Linked DNA regions of Homo sapiens: region 2 is linked to region 1. The links come from fine-mapping of genetic effects on gene expression. A gene starts in region 1. The other region holds a variant in brackets. All regions are shown on one strand. Distances are from middle to middle.

Region 1 (2,500 bases):
ACTTGGGAGGCTGAGGCAGGAGAATCACTTGAACCCAGGAGGCAGAATTTGCAGTGAGCCAAGATCACACCACTGCACTCCAGCCTGGGTGACACAGCAAGACTCCATCTCAAAAACAAAAACAAAAAACAAAAAAAAACTTTGAAAGACCATTGATCTAGTCATATTACAGATGGGTAAACTGAGGCCCAGAGATGAGGAGACATGTCTGGGGTTCTACTGAGTCCGCCCCAGAGCTGACCGAACACAGCCCCAGGGTGCCAGCTCCGTTGGTCTTTCCACAGCCCCACAGTTCCTGGAAAGGAAAGGGCCGTGACAAGGGCAAAGCCAGGGTTGCATACAGGGCTGCGGTGAGAGACGGAGTCTGGCAGCGTGTGATGAGAGACAGAGAGACGCAGCGTGTGGCATGCGGCACATGCCAGCGACAGGCGGCAGCAGGCGGGCAGGCGGGAGGCCGGGCTGCAGCGCCAGAGCATAGCCATTGTCCCCAGCGTCCGGCCTGCCCAGGTGCCCCTCACTGGCCATCAAGTGACCTCCCTCGGCCCTGCCTCCCCTGAGGCTGGCCAGCTGTAGACCCCAGGCCCACCTCCACACGTGCTCCTTCCTTCTCCCAGCTTGCTCAGACAAGCCCATGAATAGAACATTAAAGGCAAAACCTTCTAAAAGGAAAAGCAGCTCCCTGGTAGGAGTCACCCCACTAAATGTCAAATGCAGAGCAAGGCTTCTTGCCTTGTGCGCTTCTCACTCATGGAGTCACCTTAGCCTCCATATCCCCATCATCCTATCGCCGTATAAATAAATCATGGTCAGAAGAATGCCAATTTCCCCCCAGGGCCTCATGAATCTCTCAACATAAGCATATGTAAAGGCCCCCTTCACTGCGTGCTGGTCCTGGTGCCCAGAAAGAGATAGCAAATCCTGTGGGGATGATTTTGGAGGCAGAAGCAAACTTTCTACCACCTCAGTGGGCTGAAAGTTGGGAGCCCAGCTTTTGTCCTGATTTGGGAAAGACCCTTGCTCACGTAGTTGTCACCATGATGCCACTACCCTCTGGAATCAACTCAGTGAGCTGCCAAGTGGCCCATCGCTGGGGGCTGCAGTGGTCTGTCCCCTGGCAGACATGTCACGAGTCGTGCCCACCCACCCCCTGTGAGGGCGAGCCACACACCCACTCAGCAAGTGTTGTTCCTGACATGTGGCACACACAGCGCTGGCCTGCCCACTCCTGGGAGCCCCTGCCCCCACTGACTGGCTCACCATCGTGCCACGGCACCGAGCCCTGCCAGTGGACCAATGGTGTGGGTGCCAGCAGAGGCTCTGGTGCACTAGGGTGTCCTGCTCTGCAACAGTGACCTCTGCCACACACACTACAGGGAGCCTGTTGCATGCTTTGCCAGGTGTGTTTCTGTACATACACACACACACACACACACACACGCACACACACTATGGTACCAACTCTTTTGCTGTGCCAGCACAGAGGTCTCCAGAGCGACTCTCCTGAATCAGATAGCAGGGGCTGTTTGCAGTTTCGTTTCCACGCTTCGCTGACTGGTTAGACAGTGATCACAGGTTCGGAAGCACGAGCCTCACCACAGCGGAGGAGGCCTCCACTCTGAAGCGGGATTCCACGCTCCTGCACCCTAAGATCAGCTAGACTCTCTGCCTTGTTTCATCTTCTTTCTTTTCCTAAAGAATCACGGGGAGAACTGACCTCTCTGGGACTCAACCGTGGCTGGAAGGGGACAGGAGAAGCCCTTTCTGGAGGACAGCTGAGCCCTGCAGCTGCCATCCTGCCTGGCAGGCTAGGGCTGGGCTGCGGGAAGGCCCCCCAGGAGGTAGGGAGCACTACAAGGCAAGAGGGGCAGGTATAGGTGGTGGAGCCAGTGTGTTCCGGGGCTGTGCTAGCAAGTCCATCAGGTCACCCTGGAGGGAAGCCAGGGAGAGCAAACCATGGGGAGGGCTGAGATCCCAAGCAGAGCACAGCCCCCCAATAATCCATGGCCCTGGGCCCTCCTCAGGGGCGTGAAAGCAGGCAGGAGGGTTCCTGGCCCACTGTCCCATCTCTGTCCCCAAGGAAGAAACCAGGGCAGGAGACAGAGGTGAGGACTGTGTCTTCCAGACACCGGGGGAGAGGGAGTAGGAGAGGACATATGAGACAGCAGCTCAGGCCCCAGGAGTCCCAGATCCCAGCCAGAGAGGCTCCTGAGGAACCGCAGAGGGGAGTGCATAGGAACCACCAGCAAGCTCTGCGAGAAGCCAGAAATGAATCAGCAGCGCCCAGCGCCCCACAAAACAAATGTCAGAGAAATCAAGACAGATGGGCACGTGAGACAGTGGAGCACAGAGGTCCAGAGGGCAAGGGAGACGGTGGGCTTGACAGACAGAGCGGGGGCTGCATCCTGACTCAGCAGTGCGCCGGCTGGGTGGCCCAGGGAAAGGGACTCCAGCTAGCTATGCCTCAGTTTCCTCATCTGACACGGAGGAATGAGCACAGACG
Region 2 (2,500 bases), 20 kb before region 1:
TCTATTAATAAACCTCAGCTGAGATCCTTGTGACCCCCCTCTTCCGGATGTGATCCTCGCTGCCTTGCCTTATCAGCCTTGCTTTTCACAAGCTCTTAAATTCATGAGAAAAGGGAAAAAGTGAAATCAGATAGAAATGCAGGTCTGTTTGCTGTTTTCTCCAATGAAATGGTTCTGGGTAAACAGCAGACGCCTTTGATGAAATCCCAGCAGGCTTAAACAATAAAGCTGGTTACAAACTCAATCTGGCGGAGATATCAGATCTGAAATTGTTTCAAAAAACATGTCAACATTTTCTAATGCTCCTAAAAAAAACCTTCCTGGGCTGCCCACTGTGGAGTCTGGGTCTCGGAGACAGGACGGGGGCCACCCCAGCCTCTGCCCAGGCCAGCTGGGACTCTGTGCACAAAGAACCCAGGAGCAGGCTATTCCTGGTTGCTGGGGGCCCTGCCAGCTGCAGATGTGTAAATGGCCACTTCAGTCATAACCCAAGCCAGGCAGGGGACCAGCCACCCTTGTGTACACCACTGCACCATCCCCCGCAACCAACCTGGCCTCCCCGCCTTCCCCCTTAACTATCTTCCATTCTCCACACTGCAGCCAGCAGAGGCTTTTAAAAATGTAAATCAGATCATGTCATTCCTTTGCTTAAAACCTCTAATGCATTCACACTGCACTTAGAACAAAATCCAAACTCCTCCGTGGCCCACGAGACCTTCAGGGATCTGCCGCTCACTACCTGCTTCTTCACTCACGACAATCAACCTCACTGGCCTTCCTCGCAAATTATTTCCTGCCTCTGGGCCTTTGCACTTCCTACAGACTTTGTCTGGGATGCTTTTTCCCCAACCCATCGTCCTCAGCCAGCTCCAGGACCAGCCCAGCTGATGTGGCTCCTCTCCCGGCCAAGTACAATATCACATTAACAGTTTTATTCTCTACACTGAGTCCAACCACGATCTGAAATCATCGCATGTGTTTACTTATTAACTGTCGCTCTCTGGAATGCGATCCCTCTGCAGGTCTGAACTTGTCTGTCTGGTAGTCGACAAGTATGACTGGCCCATAGTAGGTGCTCAATCATAAACCACTGCATGAATGAGCAGTGAGGATGTCACCGTCCCCTCTAGGTATTCCCCAGGCAATGCCCAGGAAATCGGGAGCACCACCAGCACACTAAGGTATCCTACTCCAAGGTACAGGAACACCTCGCCAGCCTCCCTCTAGGGC[A/C]CCCCTAGCTGCCCCTGCCCCACCCAGGCCTCATCCAAGCCCCTGCTGGCTTTAAACCACTAGGACTCGGAGGTCAGGCCTGAGCCGGGGCTGGGAGGTCCCCGCCCCCTTCACAGCCCTCCTACTCGGGCCTGCATCCCCGCAGACCCCCGACCCCAGCTGACGCCCTCTGAGAAGGGAGGTGACAAGGGCAGGCCGGCAGGGGCCGGCGCGCTCCTCGCAGGCCTTCTGGGGAAAGCGTGGGCGCAGGTGCCTTCGGTTGGGCTCCTGGGTCTGGGGCCTGGGGGCGGGCAGCGATGTCCCCCTCAGGGTGCCGGGCGCCCCACCCCCACCCCCGCCTCCGCCCCAGGCCGCGATCGATCCCGGCCTCTCCCGGCCTCATTACCGAGGGAGAGCTGCCGGGGCTGGCAGGGGAGCCAGACGGCGGCGGAGGGGGCGGGGAGGCCTCCTTGGCTCCCTGGCCCGGATTAAATATTTACTATGTTTTGTTTGGCCTTTGGGGGAGGGGCGGGGAGGGCTGTCGCATTGATCCGGAGCTGCAGGGCGAGGGCGGTGCCCAGACCCGGCGCCCCAAGGCCTCCCGCAGGCCGACCCGAGCCGAGCGCGCCCTTTGGGCACCGGCCCCGCCCGGGAGGGTCTTCTCGCTCTAGAGCCGGGGGCCCGCGCTGAGAGATCGGGGTTACCGCGCGGGGAGCCGCGGCCGCGCTGGGATCCGTTCCCTCTCGCGGGAGCCGCCGGCCGGGGATCTGCGCACCCCACGCGCCCCGCTCGGGTCGGGCCTCCCCTCCCCGCGGCTGCCCCCGGGCCGGCCACCGCTGCCCAGCGCGCAGGTCCCTGCCGGATCCCCGGCGGCTTTCCTGCCCCCACTTTACAGACGTGAACGCTGAGGCGGAGGGTGGGGGACGTGGGGCCGGCTCGCCTCCTCCTGGGCTCGCCGGGATGTGGCCTCCGAGGTCGCCGCGGCGCTTTCCTGCCCAAGCTGGCGCTGCCGGAGCGCCCGGGCCCCGCTCCCCTCACGGGCCTCGCAGCACAGACGGGGACAGGGGCGGCCTCGCGCGCACGGGGACCCCGGGGTGGGGGTGGGGGTGGGGCTCTGCGAGGGCCCTAAAAACGCTGGGGACGCGGGTTTGACGCACTTTCCCGGCAGCCGAAGACGACCCCGGAGCCCCTTTATTCTCTACGCGCTCATCCCACGCGCAGAACAGACACAGGCCCTGCCCTCACCGAGGGTTCCAGTCGGCTGTGCACAACTGAAGAGCTGCTCCCCCTT

Direction of the effects. Positions count from the first base shown, and alleles are read on the strand shown. Sizes are in standard deviations (SD) of each study's normalised expression.
For the expression in anterior cingulate cortex of the gene that starts at base 1,447 in region 1, C is the low allele of the variant in region 2 and A is the other (moderate effect, 0.42 SD a copy in GTEx).

Evidence for each region.
Region 2: its variant is fine-mapped to the expression of RTN4RL1-AS1 in anterior cingulate cortex (GTEx, PIP 0.99).

Annotation. Positions count from the first base shown.
Region 1 is chr17:2,016,270-2,018,769 of GRCh38, forward strand. RTN4RL1-AS1 (RTN4RL1 antisense RNA 1) reads left to right here and starts at 1,447. Exons shown (of 2, transcript NR_135642.1): 1 at 1,447-1,838. All of the region lies in intron 1 of RTN4RL1 (reticulon 4 receptor like 1), which reads right to left. The region is part of intron 1 of LOC105371486 (a long non-coding RNA gene); the gene reads right to left. RefSeq lists an enhancer at 2,044-2,153.
Region 2 is chr17:1,996,477-1,998,976 of GRCh38, forward strand. The region is part of intron 1 of RTN4RL1 (reticulon 4 receptor like 1); the gene reads right to left. Among named protein-coding and RNA genes, the nearest start is that of RTN4RL1-AS1, 20 kb to the right of the region's middle. The variant A/C (reference allele first, on the strand shown) is at 1,231.